Linked DNA regions of Homo sapiens. The protein of the gene in region 2 interacts with the protein of the main gene of each other region in a pairwise test. Each region holds a gene or a part of one and is shown on either strand. Other genes may lie near its edges.

The links.
Region 1: the proteins of VRK2 (region 2) and KSR1 interact in binary tests that used the Homo sapiens proteins (3 or more experiments, as listed by UniProt).

Annotation. Positions count from the first base shown.
Region 1 is NC_000017.11:27,451,503-27,459,483, reverse strand, and holds the start of KSR1 (kinase suppressor of Ras 1), read right to left. Parts: upstream 3,037-7,981; 5' UTR 2,841-3,036; coding exon 2,610-2,840; intron 1-2,609.
Region 2 is NC_000002.12:58,049,553-58,057,142, reverse strand, and holds part of VRK2 (serine/threonine-protein kinase VRK2), read right to left. Parts: intron 1-7,590. UniProt on the Homo sapiens protein: Serine/threonine kinase that regulates several signal transduction pathways.

The DNA.
Region 1 (7,981 bases), on a different chromosome or scaffold from region 2:
CCAGCTTGCTGAGATTGTTTCCTGGCTTGTGTCACCCACCTGTATGAAATGAGAGGCAGCTGCAGAAGTACCTTTCCCTAAAATCCAGATTTACTGAACCCATAAAGTAGGGGGTTAAGTTTCCCTAGCAAGGGTCCAGTAGGGGTTAAGTTTCCCTAGTGGTGGCCTGTGCCATAAATGCTACTGGACCCTCACTAGGGGCAGCTGCCAGGCAGACTCTTTTCGTAGTATCAGCACGGACTGACAGACAAAATGCTGCAGGTGTGAGCAGTCTCGTTCCTATTTTACAGACAGGAGAGCTTGAGATTCAGAAGTCATGGGACTTGCCTAAGGTCACACAGACAGAACCCAGGCCCAGTATGAAAGCCATGGGGCTTCCTATTCACCACGCTGCTCCTATGGCAAAGATTCTTCTAATAAACTTAACCCCTATGTTATGGGTTCAGTAAATCTGGATTTTAGAACCATTCTTAAAGAGGGTTATTCTTAAACCAGGGTAGTATAAAAACAATCACAAACATTTGATTTCACCCAACCAAGTCTCCTTCTCTAACCTAGAGAATTTCGAGCTTCCAGAGCCCTCAGAGATCCACTCCAGCCTCCTTGTTTTGCAGGTGAGGAGGCTGAGGCCTCCGGGATGAAGTGACTCATCTAAACTAGCTGGTGGCAGCCCCATGGAACTCACTCCAGGGGTCTAAATTCCCATCCCCCAAAACAACCCAGGCCCTGCCTTTTCAGGAAGTGGAGTGAACCCGAATCCACATCACGGTGGGAAGAACAGGGAGCTGCAGATCCCCTGTGGGCCTTTGGATGGGTTCTCTGCTGCCAGGGATGATCGTCTAAACAAACACTCAGGAGGGAAGCCACTGAATAAACCAGCTCCAACACTTAAATAGCTGGATGCTCTGGGGTGTCATGAACGCCACACTGCCATCAAAATGAGGGACTCCGGAAGTTAGGGTAGGACAAAAGGCCATTCCAGAGAATGCACAGCAAGTGGTTCTCCTATATACACACTCTGGAAGCCAGGAGCACTTCAGAGCAACGTGGGGACAATCCCACAGAGGCCAACACAGAGAGCATTCTCCAAGCCCAGCAACACCGAAGTCCAACCACGCACACTCTGCCAGACAGCGACCCCTCCTCCCGGAACTGAGCCTCACAGGCCCCCTATTGTTGTCAGCTTAAAAACTGAACTTTGCTGAGCAAACACACTCAGCTGTGTTCAAAAAATCAGTTTCTCTCAATACTTGGAAAACTGCAGCATGCATGCAGAAAGGCCAGTTGTAGGGGGTTTTGTTTGTTTTTTAAGCAAAGCCTTGGTCAGTACAGCTTTAGCCAACTGTAATAAAAAATAATAATACCCAGCACTGACTGTATTCTTCCAATGTCCTGTGGTTTTATAGCTTTTAAGAAAATAAAACTGAGGGAGAGTCACCCCCGAGCATTTGGAATCAAACAAGGATTCGGCTTTGTGGCATGCCTGGAGGAAGGATTGGTCTTGTAATAATTACCGCGATCACAGAGGGCCTTATGACAGCTGGCAGAGGCAATTAGCAATAAGGGGCGGGGGGAGGGTTTGGGGGAGGAGAAATTGAGGATCTAATAAAACAAAACATCCCCAGACCTGCAGGAGGCCAGATGTGGCAGGGCAAGATGGTGAGAGGTTCCTTCTTCAAGACGGGGCAGCTATTAACTGGTCTGACGTTTCACCGCCCCGTCCCTGGCCAAAATCACATTCAGAATCCACTAGTTGCCCTCATTTGTGTATGGACAGGGTGCCCCAACAACCCTCGGGCTGGTTTTTCCAAATCCTTCAGATACTTCCCCAGCTATAATTTGAGAGAGGAAGGCCCGCATATCTTATTTCTTCTTTACACTCCAGACTGTCTCCATCAGAACCCTTTAAACAGTTTCATCTTCCCACCAAAGGCTTGCTTCCCAGCATAATCCTTCCTAAGCCTAAATCCAATCTTTGGGGGGAAGCAGGGGGAGTCAGCGGGTAATTATTAATACATTTTAAGCAGCGAGCCTCCGTGGCAACGTGAAAGGAAAGCACCAAACGCCTGAATAACAAAAATGCAGTTTCAGCAACACTTTTTGAAAAGGCGGCAGACAAGACCTGAGAGGAGAGGAAAGGAAGGGACAGGACGGCGTCTGGGGCGTGAGGGGAACAGGGGACGGCAGGCCTGCGATCACGCTTCAGGGGAACCTCCTCCGTCACCCTGGCCCACGGGTGCTCGGCTCAGTCACACGGGGAAAAGTCCAGCTTGTGACTCGGTGGGACAACGAGTCCTGCGGCCCCGCAAACTGGAAATGGGGTGGGGGCGGAGAAGGGGGGAAAGGGGATGTCCGCGCGCAGCCCACCCCGCACGGGCCCCTCGAGCCTCCATCCCAGTTCCCACGACGCACCCGCCCCACAAATCCTGCCCAAGATGAGGGCTGGTCCCGGGTCCTCCGGCTGCCGCATCAGCGAGTGCAGGAGGGAGGGGAAGCCTCCAAGGGGGGCGACGCGGGCTCAAGGATGCAACTCGGCCAGGAGTACTGGGGCCCGGAGGGAGGTGTCCGGGCCCGCTCCTCGAGCCCAGCCTGGTCCCCGACCCACTTACCTCCAGGGTCCGTATCTCCTGCTGGGTGAGGTCGTTGGACACAGCGCACTTGGTGCGCAGCCCGCGCAGGCTGCCGATGGAGATGTCGATGAGCTTCTGGAGCTGCCCGCACTGCTGCAGCGCCCGGCTGGCCGCGGCCCCTGCGCCTCCCTCCGCGGCCGCCGCATCCCCCCCGCCACCGCCCTCCTTCTTCTCTCCCATCGCCGCCGCGCGCAGCGCTGCTCTATCCATGCCTCGGCATCGGGGCCGCGGCGGCCGAGGCTGGGAGCCCGGGGCGCGGGCGCCTCGGCAAGGAACCCCCGAGCCAGGAGAGCTGGACCAGGAGCGCCCCTCGGCGCTGCCCGAGCCGGGACGCCGGTAGAGCCGGCCGCTGAGTCTGCCGCTTCCACCCTCCCAGCCGCGGCAGCAAAGCGAAAGCCGCGGCGACCCGACGGCTGCGGCTCCCGGAGCCTTTAAGCGGCGGCGGGGGCTGGGTCAGGGCGGCCGGGCATGCTGGGACTTGTAGTCCACGCCGCGCACCTGCCGCCGGCCTCCGCCCTCGGGGCCCCGGACCGCGCCCGCGCCGCCCTCCCTGCCCTCCTCTCCCCTCCCCTCCCGGCGGCCGCGGCGAGGCAGGCGGTGAGGGCCGGCCCCAACCGGGAGCCCCGGGTGGAGCTGCTCCGCGCCAGCTCCTCCCCCAGGCGCCGAGAGTCGGGGGAGCAGCGTCTCCCCGTCCGCCTCCGTCCCCCACCCGGCCTAGGAGCTTCCCGCGACCCCCGGATGGGGCGGCGCCCCCTGGACGCCCGGCGGGTGTGCGTCCCGCAGTTCCTCAGCTGCAGCCCAGCCCTGGAAGATGGGGACCAGGGAGGTTCCAGGATTTGTATGTGGGTTTAGGGGCTGCCATCTAGTGGGAAGGGGCTTACAGCACTTCTGTAGCTGGCTCACAAAGCGCTCTACTCTGGACTGCCTGCGCCAAAACGATTGCTCAGGCTTGGAGAAAGACGAAGAGCTTTCTTCTGAACCACATTTACCTGCCAAAATAAGTGTCCCATTCCCCCGCCATTCCCAGCCCACCAAGCCAGCCCAGACACGGGGGACAGCACACTGAATTGTCGGTGGCTTCGGAGCAAGTGGCCAGGATTCAAATTCTGACTCCACCACGGTCTAGGGTGAGACTTTGGGCACGTTCGATTTCCAGTGAATGCCCGACTCTCCTCATCAAATAACTCTTTAATAGGGTTCCTATGAAGAATCAGTTAATACATGTACAGCACCTAGATTGATTACTGGCACATGTGGTCGCTGGATAAATGTTAGCAATTCTTACTATCTAACCTCAGATCTGAATGTGGCCCTGGACCCAGGTAGTGGCCATGGAGCAGTACAGTACTGCCAAGGACTGGTAGTCCTTTGTCCTCTGTGCATTTCTGTGCCTCCTAACCCAGCAATCAAGCCTTGCCCATCTGTTCACCCTCCTCTCCCATTAGTTCACCCCATGCGTTCTATTATCTGGCAAAACTGAAAAACCAAGTCTCTGATCAAAGCTCCCACACCTTCATGCTTTCGACATCTGTCAACCAGAAAAAATGTCTCCCCTCTCAATTTTCTCTTGTAAGCTGCTTGATTGCAGAAGCCACTAGCTATTGTACCCTCTTTATAGTGCCAGATACAGTGCATGGCACACAAGAAAGGCTCCAGCGTGCCTCAGGAGCTCTTTCAGCAGGTCCTATGGGATGTTTCTTTTACCTCTCAGGCCAGCCGAGGGTGTGTGTGTGTGTGTAGATAGACAGTTGTTTTTTTGGTTTTGTTTTTGTGTTTGAGGATGAGAATTGGACAGGAGGTGGGATCCAAACCTTGTAGACACTAAAACAATCAATAATGGATGGCAGTTTGTATTACACCTTCCTTTAATGTTTATATTACACCAGCCTTCGAAATAAATTAAGGGCTGGGCACCGTGGCTCATGCCTGTAATGCCAGCACTTTTGAGAGGCCAAGGGGGAAGGATCACTTAAAGCCAGGAGTTCGAGACCAGCCTGGGCAATGTGACAAGACCCTGTCTCTAAAAAAAATAATAAATTTTTAAAAATCAGGTCTAGGAAGCAAAACTATAACTTTAAAACTTGTTTTTGCAAATTAACCCCTCCTCGAGATTTTCCAAATGCAAGGAGGTTCCTCCCTAACCCCTGGCCTTTCCCATTGAGAGTCATTGATCCAGTCCTCACTCAACTTATAAAAAGACCGCCTGCACGATATTATGAATTTCTCAACCTGTTACCTTAACCCCATCCGACTCCTTGCAAAGTAGTAACTATTATGAAAGGGAAACTAGTTGTGGTTCTCAAACTTGAACATGCATCAGAATCACTTGGAGGGCTTGTTAATTCCCAGAACCATGGAGCTCACCTCTATAGTTTCTAATTTTGTAGATCAGAGGACAGGGCAGGAGAATCTGCATTTCTATCAGGTTCTCAGGTGGTACTGATGTGGTTAGTCTGAGCCCAGTCGCAAGTCTATACTTTGAGAAGCCTAGGCACAGAGGAAGGTCAGTGGGCAGAGAACTATCTCAAGGGACTATCCACAACCCAACCTGGCTGGTTCAGAGCCTCTGTCCAGCAGCCAGAGCTGCCAGGCTTGAACGACTCACTCATTCTAACACAATTCACAAAAGATTTTTTTTTTTTTGAAACAGGGTCTTGCTCTGTCACTCAGGCTGGAGTACAGTAGCATGATCATGGCTCAGTGCAGCCTCGACCTCCCAGACTCAGGCGATCCTCCCACCCCAGCTTCCCAAGTAGCTGGGACTATAGGAGTGTGCCACCATGCCCGGCTAACGTTAACTTTTTTTTTTTTTTCCTTTTTTTTAGAAATGGAGTCTCTCTACGTTGCCCAGGCTGCTGGTCTCAAACTCTCGGGCTCAAGCAATCCTTCCCCTTCAGCCTCCTGAAGTGCTGGGATTATAGGCGTGAACTACCATGCCTGGCTCACAAGAAATGTTCTGGTAAGTGCCTATTTATGCACTTACATCAAACTTGTTATTGCCACAGGGACCTGGTCATCACATTCTCCCTCTAGGGCCACTTTATGTGGGAAGCCACATCCTGAGAAGAGCCACTGCCAGCTTGTGGCATTCATGCCCACCCATGTCACCACAGGGGTGATGTCAGAGCCTGAGACTGGACAAATGCCAGCTCCCTGGTTACTCTCCCGCCAGGTTCCATGCAGCGAGTCTGTCCTCTGTGGATACAGTCTTCCCTCTGATTATCCAGAGCATTCAGCAGGCCACAGTTTTCCTTCCTCACAGATGGCCTCCAGCCTTCTTGCCTGGATTTGAGTCATCTGTCAGCCACAAGTTTACAGAACTGCCCCTCAGAGGTGGAGAAACTTTTTTGTTTTTGTTTTTTGTTTTTAAGAGACAGGGATTTGCTCTGTTGCCCAGGTTGGAGTGCAGTGGTGCGAGAAAGCTCACTGCAGCCTCAAAAGTCCTGGGCTCAAGCCATCCTCCTGCCTCAGCCTCCTGAGTAGCTGGGACTACAGGTGCCTGCCACCGCATCTGACTAATTTTTAAATTTTTTGTAGGGACAGGGTCTTGCTGTGTCATGTAGACTGGTCTCAAACTCCTGTTCTTGGCCTCACTCTCCCAAAAGTGCTAGGATTACAGGCATGAGCCATGGCACCTGGCCGAAATAAGGATTTTTAAATAATCCCTTCATTCATCCTTTTAACATTCAGTAAGCATTCATGAAGTGCCACTTACATGGCAGGCCCTGTTCTGGGCTCTGGAAAAGGGTAGTGAACAAAATGAAGATTCTTACCCTTAGGGAATTTATGCTGTGGTGAGAGGAAACAGACAAGCAGATAAATGCACAGTGTGTCAGTGGTAACAGGTGGTATGGCACTGCAGGGAAGGGGACAGGGAATATGGCCTTTACAACTTCGAATAGAGCTGTTTTAGAGAGTAGGGTAGTCAGCTCTGTCTCTGAATCGCTGTATGACCTTTGACGAGTCTTATATGACCTCGGGCAAATCTCCTAATCTGGTAGCACAGCTTCTTATTTGCAAGATGGTGATAATGTTTTATGAGGATGAACAGATTATATAACACAAAGTAATGGTCATAAAATAAGGGTTCGGCATATTTATTTATTTGATAAATATTTACTGTATGTCTACTGAAACTGTTCCAAATGCTTAACTCATTGAACTATGCATTACTTTCTTCCTCACCTTCCAGAATGAATCTCTTCTAGTTAGATGAATTGATCTATTATGTGTTGATTCAGGGTTTCAGCATCATCTCCAGGTTCTTGAGGCTTTTTCTGAGGCACCTCAGTAGAGAAAGTTTGCTTACTCTCTCCTTCCTCTCCTCTGTCTCGGGTCCCTTCATTGCTTTTCCGAGCTTGTCTGCATCCAAACACCAACAGCAGCGGTGGGAGCATTTTCATGCACAGGCCCAAGAAACATGAAGAGGACACTTAGCATGCGCCAGGCTCTGGGGTAGGCTCAAAGCGAAGGAAGCCGAGTCCTTATCCCTGTGGAACATACATGAAGGGAAGGACAGGAAATGAATGTCAACAAATATATTACCAAAATAAACTGAGAATCATAAGTGCTACGCAGAAGAAGAAGAAAGCAAATAGCCGAGAGTCTCTGGTGGCTAAGGTACTTCACTAGGTGAAGTGGACAGAGAATTATTATCTGACCATTGAACTAAGATGTAAATAAGGAAAAGCAAGCCATGTGGAATGTTCCAGGAAAGGAGCACTCCAGGCAGTGGGAACATCATGTGCAAAGGCCCTGAGGTAGGAGCAGCTTGGCATACTCCAGGAACAAAGTGAAGGCCAGAGAAGCCATAGCAAGATGAGGGAGAGGAGCAAGGGCTGGAGATGATGTGGGAGAGCTATGCAGGGGCCAGATAAAGTGGGACATGGGAAGGAAGTTTGGGTTTTTCTCCAAGCCTTTGTTACTCCTAATGCGGTCCAGGAGCAGCAGCAACTGTATGGCCTGGGAGCTTATTAGAAACGCAGTCTTGAGCCCAACCCCAGATAACTGAATCACAAACTGCATCTTAGCAAAATTCCCACATGACCCAAAAATAGATTAAATTTTTAGAAACACGGTACTCTAAGAAAGTCACGTTCTTTTCAGGTGGAGAGTTTTAAAGATCCCTCAGGCTGCCACATGGAGAGCCAATGGTAGGGAGGCAAGGGCACAGCCATGGCTCTGGTTTTGAGACAGCTGCGGTGGCCCAGGCCAGGTGGGGAGCAGGAACCGGGTGAGAGTGGAGGAGAGGGAGGAAATAGAGGGGATAGAGGACATGTTTTGGAGACAGAGTCAACAGGACAAGCAGATGGATTTAATGTCGAAGGAGGAAAAGAAGAATTCCGGCCATC
Region 2 (7,590 bases):
ATTAAGCACTGTGAGTGACTGCCTGAAAGCAGTTTATAATGTAGTGTCTGTGTGCACACATGTTGGGGGAAACAGGTTAAAAAGACAGCATACAAAATAGTGACCGTCTGAAATAATGAGGTGAGCATTGTGTGAAAGCACACCATCGGAACAAAGAAAGAGAGAAGTTATGAACACTCCCCAGCATGCCTCTTTAGCATTTCAGAATTTTCATAAAGCCTACCAAGCCACCATTTGTTTCCACAACCAGTCCTAGCAGCAGACCCTCCTCGCTTCCAGTCTACCAAGTCTAGGTATTCTGCTGTTTGGCTGTTGCTTGCCTTTTCGTTAGACCAACTCTCCTCTACCTCTAGTTGTACATCTCACACTATTACCAAGTACAATAAAAGCATCACATGCCACCACACTACTATTTTGGGAAGCCCTGCAATGACTACCAGTGTACCAATTAACCAGTCCAACCCTGGATATAAAATGTTAGTTCCTCAAACACGTGATGCAGAATGGGAAGATGAGAGGAAGTGGGGTGAGTAGCCACACTAGTTACTCTTCAGAAATAGCCACACTACCTAAGCAGAACAGGTTGGATTAAGGTCTGCACATGAGCCAAAGCTGAGAATTCATTGCCTTTGTTGGCTCATGTCACTTCTTTAATTAATGTCACTTTCTCTGGTTTAATATCAGAGCAAGTGACAAGAGTGCTTCTGGATGAATTGTGTTTTCCGAGGACTGTATGGCACACTCTCCTGCAGTCTGACAGAGGGACGTGCCAGTTTTACTTGGCAGTTACAATGCACCAGCTTTAGTTTTAGTAGTTTAATTTGTGGCAGTTATATGTTTTGAATACGTTGAAGTATTCACAACGGTCTCATGGAATCTGTTCCATAGATAAAGTTTACACAGTGAAAAAGCAAAAGCAACGGCTATAAGGCGATTAGGAAAAGCTTCTCTTGGCCACAGCTGGTCTTACAGGCATTCCTGTAAATTTTAGAGCATTTAGAAGATATGATTAAAGTGATCAGAAGGAAGCGTGCCCTCTTTTAGGGGGTGGGGGAGGGGAGTTCTGTAGTGGGTGTGAGACAATCAGAAGGAAATATGATGTTTAGAGTTCTCAATTTTATGCAAAATCCATTATTCAAGAAGCAAAGTTTATATACATGATAGACATGCAATGAAATAAATGTAAAAATAGAAAGTTTTGTCACTTATGCATTAAGTTGGTTCTAACATTTTGGTTAACTAAGTTTTTATTGATAGAAAACTCAGAAGATTTTCTGCATTGAGGAGAAAGGACTAAACTTTTTCCTTTGGTTTGTTAAAAATCTTTCTGTTTCTGGATGAAATTTTCTGAAGGTCTTTTATTTGGAGTTTTCCCTTCATCTCCTTTATACAATTTTGTGAAGCTTCATCAGCTCATAGTGAAAAGAGCTGCCTGCCACCAAGGAGTTCTTCTAAACTTTGCCTGCCCTTTCTAAATTTAGGGTTCTTTACTGCAGCAGGTTGAAGATCTGGCTTTGATTGCACCTGGCTCTGCTGGAGAACAGAAATATTCATCTCCACTGAATGCATGCTGCTTAAGTGCTGGAGGCACTTGCAGGAGAGTAACTCTCATTGGAAACTTCATTACAATACTTTCTCTTCCCTACACGAAGTAGTAATTCTCATTCACCAAAGACAGGATTTTGCCTGACACAGCCACAGGAGCTGCTGTTTGACTTTCAAAATTAATCAACTTCTAAGTTGGAGTAGAAATGGCATGTCCTTTAACCTTAAGCACAAAAAGCTCTCAACAGACTGTAGTTTTTATATCCCTGGATGGGAATTTGGGCCCCTGATACTTAAACTTGATTCACATACTGGGTTTCTGGCATGCTTTTGCCCATACCCATCTGCTAGCCTGGCACTGTGCCCATTCAGAAGGTGTGATGCCAGTTTCAATAGGGCATAGGTGCCAATCAAAGATGGGTTTGGAGGGGCAGCATGCAGAACGCAGCAAAAGTCACTTCTTCTGCCAGAAGATCCTCCTGTTATCATATAATGCCAATGAAGGGCCACATGCTTCATTGCTTGGGATCACATTGCATCTGTAGATGTTTCTGGCCTTCAATGGATGTCTTTCTACAGAATATTTCCCTCAAGTATTACTTGATCGAAGATGTTAAAGAAAAGATAAATCTACCTGGCTAACAAAAGGCTATGCTTTTAAAAGAAACAAGGGAAGTCCTCAACAATTATCTTGAAATAATTGCTGAGTTTTCTATCTTTTCTCCTAAAATATTTTTTCATGGAGAATACAACAGAGTGTTCAGGAATAACAGTCCATGTGATGGAGCTATCAGGGACAAACATTCTAAAGAAATACTAATTGCAAAATCAAGTATCTAAGTAGTATAAAAACCATAAATGCCTTTAAGTGTAGATGATGAAGAAATTTTCATCATCCAAGTAGCTAATTTCTAATGAGCTCTCTCATTTAGAGCTTTAAAGTTTCTTAATTTTCTTCTCATTTATCTGATATAGATATTCCTGTGTCTTAAAAGAAGAAACACACCTCATACTATTTATTCCTCTTCTTCCTTATCTAAAGAAAAAAACCTAAAACACTTCAGAAGCAGAAGTCTATCCATATTTCATAAGGAAGCCAGAGCTCTCAAAAGCTGAGAATTCTTTTATTGTGTGGCAATAGAGGTGAGCTCATTTCAGGAAGAAGAAATTTCCCCACAGCAATATGTTTCAAATTAAAAAAAAAAAACCTTGACCACTGTAAACAGTTACAAGATAGTAACAGGTCCAGTGGAAGAGACATAATATATAAATGCACTGAAGAATAGAGTATTTTATAAATCTTCCCTTAAGGCAAAAGAATTTGACAGTAAAATGTTGAAAATAAAGAAGAACCATAATATAAAATATGCTTAAAAATGGATATTTAAAAAAATGAAAAAGCCAAGCAAAAGCCAAGTCTTATAAATCTCCCTTTTAATGGAAGGAACCCAAACTTTCTTAAACACCCAGATTTCTTAACTGATAGATAACTGGGTACTGCTATCTCTTTAAAAACTCAAAATTTAAATATAAACAAAATTAAAATACATCTTATAGAGACTTTTATTTCTTGTCTGTAAGTCCAACAAACGTATTAAATTTACAAAACTCCAAGTGATTCCTTCCCTGTTTTGAGTTTATATTACCTATTATTTATACCTTCTGGAGACTAATTTATCATAAACACTATAGTTTCTAGTCCAAATTATTCTCATTTTCACATTTATTCAATTCTTCTCTTCACTCCCACAGTATCATTTGCAAAATTGCCTAATAACAATTGCAGTGGCACCACAACGTTGCATTGTGTCAGATAAGGCTATTTATCTCAAAGCTCTCTATAAACACTACCAAAATAACACTTAATAATGTAATATGTAATGAAGCAATATGTATTCCAACACACTACTTTGTTGCTAGTATTATCACTGGGCTCTTCTAAACTTTATTCTGCATACCTTAAAATCAATCTATTATAGCTCACTATTTATAAAGAAAATAAAAAATTATTTTATGAAGAAGTAAAAACATTCTATGTATGTGGTTTATATTTACTTGTTTTAAATATAAATGTTTCCTTATCAGTAAAATAAATGATTTAAACTTTGGTAATTTCTAAAAACCTATCCGCCAACAAAAGATTCCTTCTATGTTTCTGAAGTACAAAATTAGGCTAATCCGACAACATGATCCAAAAATGTCTGGCAGTCACTTTGATGAAATTTAAACATCTGTCCATGGATAAATGATCTGATTTTCAGGCTTCACCACAGTTAACTTTAGTTATAATAATGTGTTATTCTTTATAAAAGCTTTGAGATAGTATCTTTATAAAAGATATTGCTACTGATGTCCTGTCAATAAAGCACATGCACATTCTTTTAGATGATGTCATGATAGGTGCCTTGTCTCAACTTTCCTGGTGACTAAGGATACTAATCTGCAGTAGATCGAAGAGTGACATCTATAATTATGGAAGAGAACAAAGCAAACTAGCTTGTGTGGGTTAAGTACTCCAATCTCAGTCTCAATTTCTCAGGCAAATAACTGTTGAACATCTATTCTGTGCTTGACACTCCAAAGATGCTAAATGGTCATCACTATGCCACCTTCAAAAAACTAAAACTGCTACAGATAAATCATATCTTTTACTTACATAATCAGCCTTCAAAAGAATGTGGCTAAAGTTTATCCTGTAATTCTGTTATTCTCAATTTTGAATAATTTCTGAAACCAATAGCTTTAATATCTGAGGCAGATTAAATACAGCTTATATGAGAACTTTTCACTACTATAGCAAATTTTAGGGGGAGCTTTTATCAGTTAGTAAAATGTCATAAAGTCTTATGCTGACATTCTCTATGTTCTCAGTTTTACCACATTAGTAGTTAAATCCACCAAAATTCATAGTAGAATAAATAGAAAATCCACCCTTCCAATGGAGTTCTTTGTCATCATCTTAATCCACTATGGCAGCATTTTTTTTTTTTTTTTTTTGAGACAGTCTCACTCCGTCACCTAAGCTAGAATGCAGTGGTGCAATCTTGGCTCACTGCAACCTCCTCCTCCCAGGTTCAAGCAATTCTCATGCCACAGCCTCCTGAGTACTGGGACTACACACACACATTACCACAACCAGCTAATTTTTTGTGTTTTAGTAGAGATGGGGTTTCACCAAGTTGCCCAGGCTGGATGGAGCTCAGGCAATCCACCCGCCTGGGCCTTCCAAAGTGCTAGGATTACTGGCATGAGCCACTGTGCCTGGCCCCACTATGGCACCAGTATTAAGAATGGGAAAGTCTATGGAAATAAATAACTAAATTACATTTATTAAATGCTTACCAAGTTCCTTAAAAAAATCTCATTTAATTCTCCTCACAATTATTATTATCACAATTATGCAGAATAGAAACAACCCAAAGGATTAAGTAACTAGATGAATAAGTGGCTTCATCAGGTCAGGATTCAGGTCAGATATGCCTAATGCCAAAACCTCTGCTATTATTTATGCAATTCTCCCGTAATTTACTTGGTTCTGTGTTATACCCAGCATTATAGTAAAATTCTAACCCTCAGTTTTCTCTCCTTCCTGATATTTAAAAAACTTTTTCATTCATTTGATACTAAAATGACAGCAATTTTTCCCATCCCCTAAACCAGTTTCCTTTCTTCCTTTTTCCTCCCCTTCTCTTTTCATATTCAAAGAAAGAACTTTGACTTTGTTCTTGTATTCAGACTTTTCTTTTCACTCTTTTAGCTATTTCTTATTAATGCTAGAGGCACATTATTTCTCCAAGTCAAGAGTAAATACCAAACTTCTCTGCCCCTTCCCCTTAACTGTAAGCTGCTGATTACCGAAAGGCCCTGGCTACTGATCTCAAAGCTAGAGGACAGTTGTACATGTACAATGAGCTAGACAGAGCAGCTAGTTTCTTCTCAGCCTTAGGCAGTAAACGCTGATCAAGTGTCTGCTGAAAGAGGGTATCTGGAAAGAATCGAAATGAATGTCACTGGACACAAAAGTATTCAGGAAAATTTGAATTTTACTGCTTCTTCTCTTCATTTATATAGAGGAAGTGATGAGAACCATGATAAAATGCAAAAACATGATGTAATTTCATATTGATTTGTTTGTATAGCTTTGAAAATAGTAAAAACTAAGTTTAGTGAAATTAAACTGATTCTATGATTCATTAGCATCACTTTTAATGGAACAGTTACAACATTTGGAACACACATCTTTATTATAAATTCTGAAGTACTGGAGCCTTTTTTCTGAAAATAGCTAAATATTTCTTTAAAGTCCTTCCTCAGTGGTGTGTACTTGCTAATCTTCCTAGGTAGGGTCCAGGTTCTAAAGTTCAGATACTAGAGAATGTTCCCTTACATATTGAACCCTGAAAATATATTGTAAAACAAACAGTATTATTTTGGTAATAAAAAAAAATAAGTAGGCTGGGCACAGTGGCTCACGTCTGTAATCCCAACACTTCGGGAGGCCGAGGTGGGCAGATCACCTGAGGTCAGGAGTTCGAGACCATCCTGGCCAATATGGCAAAACCCCGTTTCTACTAAAAATACAAAAATTAGCCAGGCAGGGTGGCAGGTGCCTGTAGTCCCAGATGCTTGGGAGGTTGAGGCATGAGAATTGCTTGAACCTAGGAGGTGGAGGTTGCAGTGGGCCGAGATTGAGCCACTGCACTCCAGCCTGGGTGACAGAGCGAGACTCTGTCTCAAAAAAAAAAAAAGTAAAAATATGTGACACTGTACTAGACTGAAAGAAGCAAATATTTTTCTGCATTTGAATAGGGACAAGTAAGTCACATGCCTATGCAAGTATATTCCTTTATCATAACAGTAACAATAGTGACTATGTGTACACATAGATACATACAGGTATACAGACATACACTATTTAATCTTAAACATTCACTTGAATTTAAATACATATAATATTTACATTTCAAGAAAATCAAAGAGATAAAATCAACACATCAATACTTTTCTCTAGTTCTTTGAAATTACTCAAATAATACAAATATTAGAAAACCAAAAGTGATAAGCTATGGAATTCAAGGCTATAGCTCAGCCACATCAGAAATAATTTATTCAACACTATATCTCAACCTTGAGTCAAGACAGTATACTAGAGATCTTAACTCTTTGCTGTAAAAGAGAATTCACTAAGTTCAAGTTTCAAACAATACTTATCCTCACATAGTCTTTATTTGCACTATTCTATACAGCAGCCACATGTAGTTACTGAGCATATGAGCCACATGGGCTAACTGGGCTCTTGAGACTAGATACACCTTGGATTTTGAAGACTTTCATTTAAAAAAGTAAAATATTTCATTTGTTTATGTTGAGAGCATATTGAAATAATATTTTTGATATACTAGATTAAATATTATTAAAATAATTTCACCTGTTTCTTTTAACGTATTTTAATGTGGCTCCTAGAAAATTTTAAACTACATATGTAACTTGTATTACATTTCTATTGAACAGTGTTGACTATGTCATTCAATCTAGCACTTAATAACCATAGTATTTTTTCAAGCAATTTCAAGCAAGTTCAAACCCTTTAAATGGGTCCTTTACTTGACTCATACAATTTTTTGTGCTGATCTTGTCTTTCCAACTAGAATAGACACTTAAGTATTTAATAAGCAGATATTTATTGACCAAACTTCATTCATTCATTCATTCAAAACTACAATCTTAATTTTATCAGAAGAGGATCTTTTATATTTCAGGATCCATGAAGCATGTTTTTCTGGAAATATGTGATGAGAACCCAAGATTCCCTCAACGGAGGTATTTTATCAACTCCTTAATCTCCTATAGAAATAGATGTGATCTCAAGTCTCAAGTGAGTACATTTAGGAGAATTTATCCTTGAGGGTATATTTTTAAAAATCACTACTATTTTCCTTATTTTATTAATCAATCTTTTAATGGATATCCCCTCCTCATTCCAACTCAATGATCCATTAAAGTTCAGTGTAATTTTTAAATGCTTAAATGCAATGTAAAGGCCTA